Regions from separate parts of the Homo sapiens genome. Here region 1 is linked to region 2. Evidence: fine-mapped expression QTL. A gene starts in region 2. The other region holds a variant in brackets. All regions are shown on one strand. Distances are from middle to middle.

What was found. PIP is the estimated chance that this variant, and not a neighbour inherited with it, causes the effect. A credible set is the group of variants that fine-mapping cannot tell apart.
Region 1: its variant is the best candidate, but not a certain one, in a credible set for the expression of ZNF528 in putamen (GTEx, PIP 0.63).

Annotation. Positions count from the first base shown.
Region 1 is chr19:52,423,323-52,427,711 of GRCh38, forward strand. It overlaps the pseudogene DPPA5P1. Among named protein-coding and RNA genes, the nearest start is that of ZNF534, 3.6 kb to the right of the region's middle. The variant A/G (reference allele first, on the strand shown) is at 2,150.
Region 2 is chr19:52,395,676-52,400,064 of GRCh38, forward strand. ZNF528 (zinc finger protein 528) reads left to right here and starts at 2,174. Exons shown (of 7, transcript NM_032423.3): 1 at 2,174-2,229; 2 at 2,692-2,944. ZNF528-AS1 (ZNF528 antisense RNA 1) reads right to left here and starts at 2,082. Exons shown (of 7, transcript NR_125345.1): 1 at 1,787-2,082; 2 at 1,520-1,592; 3 at 935-1,077; 4 at 690-824; 5 at 1-75. It also overlaps a transcript of ZNF880 not described here. RefSeq lists an enhancer at 1,486-2,685.

The DNA of each region.
Region 1 (4,389 bases), 28 kb after region 2:
TTTATTTTTAATACCAGCTTTCATGTGTAAAGAAATATGCTAGATTATTATTATTATTATTATTATTTTGAAATAACGTCTTACTCTGTCACCCAGGTATAGTGCAGTGGAGCGATGTCAGCTAAGTGGAACCTCTGTCCTGCAGCTTTAAGTGACCCTCCCACCCCAGCTGCCTGAGTAGCTGAGACTGCAGGTGCGTGCCACCACGGCCAGCTAATTTTCGTGTTTTGTAGAGACAGGGTTTTGCCATGTTACCCATGCTGGTCTCAAACTCCTGAGCTCAAGCAATCCACCTGCCTTGGCCTTTCAAAGTGCTGGGATTACAGGGATGAGCTGCCATGCCTGGCCAGTGAAATATACAAGATTGCTGTATGTTGGCCAGCGCGGCGGCTCATGCCTGTAATCCCAGCACTTTGGGAGGCCAAGGCGGGTGGATCACAAGGCCAGGAGTTCGCGACCATCCTGGCTAACACGGTGAAACCCCGTCTCTACCATAAATACAAAAAGAAATTAGCCGGGCGTGGTGGCGGGCGCCTGTAGTCCCAGCTACTCTGGAGGCTGAGGCAGGAGAATGGCATGAGCCTGAGAGGCAGAGCTTGCAGTGAGCCGAGATCGTGCCACTGCACTCCAGCCTGGGCGACAGAGTGAGACTCCGTCTCAAAAAAAAAAAAAAAAGATTGCTGTATGTTGATCTTATACCTTGCCACCTTTACATTTCCCTTGTTTAGAGATTTTTGTAGATTTTTTGGAATTTTCTACATAAAATTATTTCACCAGATTCTTATTGCTACCACACAGTGATTGGCTTAAAACAAGAAAAATTTATTTTTTTACAATTCTGTAGGTCACATATCTAATATGGGTCCACAGTTCTATGATTCTTCATGAATCTCCAGGCAAGAATTTTTTTTCCTTACCCTTTGTAGGTTCCAGAGGCCACTTACATCCTTTGACTCATGGTCCACTTCCTCCATCTTTTTTCTGAGATGGAGTTTCGCTCTTGTGTCCCTGGATGGAGTGCAGTGGCACGATCTTGGCTCACCGCAACTTCCACCTCCCTGATTCAAGCGATTCTCTTGCCTCAGCCTCACAAGTAGCTGGGACTACAGGCGCGTGCCACCACACCGGGCTAATATTTTTATTATTTTTAGTAGAGACGGGGTTTCACCGTGTTAACCAGGATGGTCTTGATCTCTTGACGTCGTGATCTGCTCGCCTCGGCCTCCCAAAGTACTGGGATTGCAGTCATGAGCCACCACACCCGGCCCACTTCCTCCATCTTTACAGGCGAGATAAAATCTCTTTATCCCTCTATTTTCAACACATCACAACTGTCCGTCCCTCAGGGTCTACCTGCATCCTTCTGATATTGAACCTTGTGATTCTATCACTTTGACCATATAATTCAGGATAATGTCTATCTAAAGATCCTTAACTAGACCACATTTGCAAACTCCTCTTTGCCACAGCCAGTCACACAGGTTACAGGGTTGAGGATATGAGAACATATTCAGTAACACAGGTTACGGGGATGACCTGTGCAACCATCATATTTTCTGAGAGTACACTATTTTTTTTCTCCTGTCCTCAAGCCACTCTCCTTCCTCATTGCTACCACACGGTGATTGGCTTAAAAGAACAAAAATCTATTCTTTTACAATTCTGTAGGTCATGTATCTAATATGGGTCCACAGTTCTGTGATTCTTCATGAATCTCCGAAAGTGCTGCTATTACAGCCCTCAGATACCACATCCAGCCTGTCACTTTTATTTCCTTTTCTTCCTTTATTTCACTGGCTGGAACTTTTCACACTGTGTGGAATAGTAGTGATAAAAGTGGACTTCCTTGCCTCATCCCCTACCCCTGGGGGAATCTTTATGTCTTTCACCAGAATGTATGATGATCCTTTTTAAATTGGTGGGTGATCTTGAGTTGAGGAAGTGTCCAATGACACTGTTTTCCATACCATCTGCAGTCTTGTTTTTCTGAAAAATTACTTTTTTTATTGGCAACTGTCAAAAGAGATATTCTCAAGACTTGGAACAAGGGCAGAAACCCCTAGACAGATGGTTTTTTCTTTTCTTTTCTTTTTTTCTTTTTTGTTTTTTTGAGAGAGAGTCTCGCTCTTGTTGCTCAGGCTGGAGTGCA[A/G]TGGTGCAGTCTTGGCTCACCGCAACCTCTGCCTCCCCGGTTCAAGCGATTCTCCTGCGTCAGCCTCCCAAGTAGCTGGGATTACAGGCATGTGCCACCACACCCAGCTAATTTTTTATTTTTAGTAGGCGGGGTTTCTCCATGTTGGTCAGGCTGCTCCCAAACTCCTGACCTCAGGTGATCCACCCACCTCAGCCTCCCAAAGTGCTGGATTACAGGCATGAGCCACTGCACCCGGCGTTTTTTTTTTTTTTTTTTTTTTTTGTTGTTGTTGTTTTTAATTCATCAGGCTGGAGCAGTGTTTAAACCAATCTGGAGTTACCATTCCAGCTATGGCCACAACCTGATCTCTACATCTTGGCCTTCTTCACATTGGCTGGAAGCTGGCTCACTTCACCCAAGGGCGTAGTTTGACGGCATTCATGCTTTCCACAAGTTTGAGCATCCCTCGCTCCTGGCACTGGCAGTGCCACTCAGCCATGGACTGGGGCATCCACTTGGTCTGGCACTTGTATAAATAGAAGCCGTAACCGACAACCTCGGTGAGGTCTGAAGACTCCAGAGCCTTCAGCACGAGCATGACCTTGCTCACCTGCTCGATGTAAGGGATTTGAGATCAGTCTGGGCCAAACATGGCTTCCAGCAGCTGCATCTGGACCTGGAGCACCTCTGGATCTTTCAGGAAGTTTCACCCATGGTGGGATATTTCTACATCTGGGATTGTTCCCAACTTGTAACCCTCACAACCAAAACTATGCTCCCGCATGAGCCGGGCCTAAGCGTTCATCAGTATTTTTGATTCCCACCAAATGTATGAAGATTACAATTTCTTCACAGCCTTACTTGTGAAGCAGGTTCACTGCACACTGGTTACCAACGTGTTGGAGTTGAGTGAGAGATAGTCCCATGAACACACAGTAAGTTACATGAAGTGAATTTGTTACAGATTGGCAGCAACGACAGCAGATGCCTGGGGTTCATGCATGCTGTTCCCGAAGGCTCAGGAAAACCACCCAGTTCAGATGCAGTCTGCGTGTGTGTTCCTCCCGCATCACAGCTGAGGGAGCCTGAAAGGCGGCCTGGCCCAGGTTTCATGCTCCAGGGATGCATGGCACGTTGGCCTAAAACAATGAAGGGCATCCTGTTCTGAGGGGACTGGAACAGATCCTGTCCTTCTCTGGTAAGGATGGACAGGATCCTGTCCTTCTCTGGTAAGGATGGACAGGATCCTGTCCTTCATCTCAGTATGTTGCTTTTCTAGCACATTTTATATTCATTCTTGGGAACTACAAGTGAGAAGTCAGACGCAACTGGGCCAGTTCAACCCCACTTGAGTGCTGTCTTGCAGTCTCCCCACCAACCCAGTATCCCCTTTAATAAAGCTAGTCAATTTATGTGTGCACTGACCTTCCTGGATCTGGAGGTAGAGGCTTGTCTCAGGAGATTGAAGTAATATCTTGACTGGCAGAATCTCAGCGCGACATCACTGAGGTACAGCCAGTTGCATTTCACTAGGCTCAAGAGGATTGCTGCCTCAAGCAGGATAACCAGGCCTGCCTGGAACAGTGCCATAGTCCGGGATCCCAGTGACCTGGGTGAGAAGTTGCTATTCAGGTCAAAGAAAATTTCTTCAGGTGACCCCACTGTCTCTAGCCAATAGTCCTGCTTGTGGATCTTACGTATTTGTGTTTCAAAACTACCTGAGGTCCTGATGTGGGGTCCTTACCTCCTGTGCACAGTGACTCATGCCTGTAATTTGAGTACTTTGGGAGTGTAGACAGAAGGAAAACTTGAGGCCAGAACTTGGACACCCGGCTGGGCAACAAAGTGAGACTCCATCTCTACAAAGTAATAATAATATATAAAACTAAAAAATTAGCACAGTCCAATGTCACAGGCCTGTACTTCCAGCTACTCGGGAGACTGAGGTAGGAGGTGCCCATGACCCCAGGAAGTCAAGGTTGTAGTGAGCTATGATTGTGCCACTGCACTCCAGCCTGGATGTCACAGGTTGATTCCCTGTCTTTAAAAAAAAAAAAAAAGTCTTAAACTAAATAATTTATACCTATTTTTAAAGTTATTGGCTTTTTTAAAAAGAGTTGGTGACCTGACTTCACACTGACCTTAGTCCTCTATGCCCAAGGTGGTGTCCCTAGGAAAGTTTCTGGAATTGAGCACAGGGTTGACCTCACCCTCTGGAGTGAATGGGGAATGTAAATGAAAAGTATTTCTAGCCGGGC
Region 2 (4,389 bases):
TTGCATCACAGCTGTGGGAGGCTGGAAGGCGGCCCATCCTGGGTTTCATGCTCCAGGGATGCATGGCACGTTGGCCTAAAGCAACAAAGGGGATCCTGTTCTGGGGATCTGGAACACATCCTGTCCTTTTCTCACCGGTCCCTTCCTCTCAGGATGTTGCTTTTCCAGCACATTCTATATTCATTCTTGGGAACTACAAGTGAGAAGTCAGATGCAACTGGGCCAATTCAACCCCACTTGAATGCTGTCCTGCAGTCTCTCCGCCAATCCAGATATCCCTTTTATTTTTATATTTTTTGAGACGGAGTCTCGCTCTGTCTCCCAGGCTGGAGTGCAGTGGCGCAATCTTGGCTTACTGCACCTCCACCTCCCAGATTCAAGCAATTCTTGTGTCTCAGCCTCTCGAGTAGCTGGGACTACAGGCGTGTGCCACCATGCCTGGCTAATTTTTTTTTTTTTTTTTTTTGTATTTTTAGTAGAGACTTCGTTTCACCATGTTAACCAGGCTGGTCTCTAATTCCCGACCTCAGGTGATCTGCCCTCCTCGGCCTCCCAAAGTATTGGGATTACAGGCGTGAGCCACCACGCCTGGCCCAGATATCCCCTTTAATAAAGCTAGTCCATTTACATGTGCACTGACCTCCCTGGATCTGGAGGTAGAGGCTGGTCTCAGGAGATTGAAGTAATACCTCGACTGGCAGAATCTCAGGGCAACATCATTGAGGTACAGCCAGTTGCATTTCACTAGGCTCAAGAGGATTGCTGCCTCAAGCAGGATAACCAGGCCTGCCTGGAGCAGTGCCGTAGTCCAGGATCCCAGTGACCTAGGTGAGAAGTTGGTACTCAGATCAAAGAAAAGTTCTTCAGGTGACCCCACTGTCTGCAGCCAATGGGCCTGCTTGTGGGCCTTATGTATTTGTGTTTCAAAAATAACCTGAGGGCTTGATGTGGGGGTCCTTATCTCCCATGCAAGGTGATTCATGCCTATAATCCGAGCACTTTGGTAGGAGCAGATGGGAAGACTGCTTGAGGCTAGAAGCTGGAGACCAGCCTGGGCAACAAAACCAGACTACATCTCTATTAAAAACAAAGCAACAAACAGTAGAAAATTAGCACAGTGGAGAGGCACAGGCCTTTACTCACAGCTACTCGGCAGGCTGAGACAGGGGGTCACCTGCCCAGGACCCCAGGAAGTCAAGGTTGCAGTGAGCTATGATTGCGCCACTGCATTTCAGCCTCGGTGGCAGAGACCCTGTCTTAAAATTTTAAAAAGTATTAAAAAACTAAGTTGGACCGGGCGTGGTGGCTACTCTGGAGGCTGGGGCAAGAGAATCACTTGAACCCAGGAGGCGGAGGTTACAGTGAGCTGAGTGCCTGCCACTGTACTCCCGCCTGGGGGACAGAGGGAGACGCTGTCTCAAAACAACAACAACAACAAAAAACTACGTCGTTTATGGCTATTTTTATAAGTTACTGGCTTTTTTTTTTTAAAGAATCGGTGACTTATCTTCACACTGGCCTTAGTCCTCCATGCCCAACACGATGTCCCTAGGAAAGTCTCTGGAATTGAGCACAGGGTTGACCTTCACCGTCTAGAGTGAATGGGGAAGATAAATGAAAAGTATTTATCTTCTATGGGCACTGGCATGAAATAGAACATTCTACCCTGGCAGGGTTTTGCATTTCACATTTTAGCTTGCATCATCCCCTTCACAGACAATTCCAAAGTGTGTTAATTCAATTCCTAAAGCTTCCCTTCCCTTCCTCCCTTCCCTTCCCTCCTTACTTTTCTTTCTTGTCCATTTATTTTCGGTTTTTTTCTCTTTCTTTCTTGGTTTTCTTTCTCTTTTTCAACTTCTCTTTCTTTTCTCTTTCTCTTTACTCTCTCTCTTCTCTCTCTTTCTGCTTCCAGGGTAGGTGGGACTTGAAATTCATTTTAATAGAAGGAATTTTCGTGGATATAATCTACAACCGATTTTGCTCTGCGCAGGTAAGATCCGTTTTCAGACCAAAACCCTGAAAACAAGCGCAGCCAGTCAAGCGAACGGAAGCGCAGGCCCGGCCCAGGCTTTGTCCCGGCCCGCCCTGGTCCCAGCCAGTCCGGCCTCTAGGATGCGCGCGCAATTTCGTGCAAACCCGGAAGCGGACCGCGGGGGGCGAACGCCTAGAGCGCAGTTTCCGGTAGACCCGGAAGCCGATTGCAGGGAGAAACTGTTTTCGCAGCAGTGCGTGAGTTTCCCTTTGTCTATGTTAAGTCTAGGCTAGCCAGTTCTTCTCTGCTTCTATACCCGGGAGCTGAGGGGCATGCAGACCTTGAAATCCCGGCACCGCTCCCTCCACCCCGAGTAAATTCAGACATCCTTTGAGAGTCTGGGAGTCGCTTTCTGCGTGTTAAAATCGCTTGGAGGCTGGTCGTGTGCCCGGTCTTTTTGTCATTTACCCACGTAGACACCTCCTATCGTGGGGTTTACCTGCTTCAAATCCTTTAGTAACCCCTACACACGCCCCGCACCACGTAAAATCCTCACTCTCCGTTCCCCTAGCCTCGCCCTTCTTTGCCCCTAGAGCTCAGCGCCCCAACAGGGCACGAGAGGCCTCGTCCTCTGCCCAGACCTGGTTTCTGCAGACTCCACCCCTCTCCTGACCCACTCCTGCCTTTTTGCTCCTTAATCTGGACCCTCTGTTCCCCAGGCCTCCCTTTTCCAGCCACCGGTTCTCCTGACCCCGAGTGTGGGGGGTGACTTCAGTCTCCTGACATCCAGTGTTCTCTCGAGCCAGTTTCCAGCCCACAGAAAATGAGCTCTTCCGGAAGTGGGCATCTTATTCCAATCCCCTCCCTGTGAATGTGTGGAGAAAAAGAGATGGGAACGAGGCAGAGGAAATAGAGAAATTTTGAAAGAGAAATGAAGAATGAGAGACCCATTAACAGAAGGCAAAGTAGAAGGTGAGTGAGGGGTTTGCAGAGGCACAGTGAAAGAAGGTGCCGAGAAAATAGCAGGGGAGAAAAGTAACTGTAAAAATATAGACAAACCTGGGTCTGTAGAAAGACGAAATTCAACAAGATAGGGAAGGCTTCTCAGACAGAGGGGGGAGAGGAGGAGGGATTTGGAGCCAGGTCAGACAGAGCAGCGTGGTGCTGGGACAGCCAGAGGGGGCAGCTGGTCACAAGGAGAACAGGGAGAACCACAGCAGGGGGAGGCCTGGGATCTAAGGGTGCCAGAGAGTGGGGACAGGGGTGTGTAATATCGAAGATGGAATTTAACAGGGAGACCCCAAGGGGAGCTGAGATGTGGGAGGAAAGAGGCAGAAATATATGGAGATTAGGGACAATGAAAGATTGGGCAGAAAGAGGAATAAGAGGTGAAACAAGTTGTAAAAATGGATCAGAACAGGTGGGAGAGAAGGAATAGAGGGAAGAATGGGACAAAGAGAAGAGGAGGGACTCAAAATGAACAGAATCCTAGGGGAAAATAGAGAAAAAAAGAGCTAGGAAAAAAGATGAGAATGAGAGATATGTACAGAATGAGGCAGGGAAACAGTAGTGAGGAAAGAGGGGGACCCTGGTTACAGATGAGTGGTGAGTTGATTGGAAATTATGATTGAATTGTGACATATTAATTTTTCTATAATATAAAATTTGTTTAGAACACATGAGGCTAGGAGCTGTGGCTCACACGTGTAATCCCAGTACTTTGGGAAGCTGAGGTGAGCGGATCACTTGAGGTCAGGAGTTGAGACCAGCCTGGCCAACATGTGAAACCCATCTCTAGTAAAAATACAAAAATTAGCTGGGCCTGATGGCCTGCGCCTGTAATCCCAGCTACTCTGGAGGCTGAGGCAGGAGAATCGCTTAATCCTGGGAGGCAGAGGTTGCAGTGAGCCGAGATCGTGTCACTGCACTCCAGGTTAGGTGACAGAGCAAGACTCCATCTCAAAAAACAAAAAACAAAAAACCACACATGAAGATGAGAATTGGAACACTATTTATAAGGCACTCTTCTCTTTTCTTGGGATGGACTAGGGTGTGAGTGTATAAGTTAGGAAAAACCAGTGTGTTTTTGTGTTCACAGTGAACACAATAAAGAGCGCTCAACACAGAATGCCTCATCTCTGGTCACCAAAGTAATATGGGAATTACTTGTCACCAACAAGCAGTTCTTCGTCAGACAGCACCTGGGTGTTCTGTAATTTTACTCAGTTTAACTGGTCAGTGTAGGAACAACCACAGACACATTTTGATCACTAAAGGTGAGGGATTCTCCTTTGGGTGTGAGAGTAGTAAAAACAGTGTGGTTTTTTCCTGTCTCAAACAGTAAGGGGAAGAATTTTCCAACAGGCCCACTCACCTGTCTCTAGGACTGTGTTCTTAGTAGTGACTGGGAATTGTCT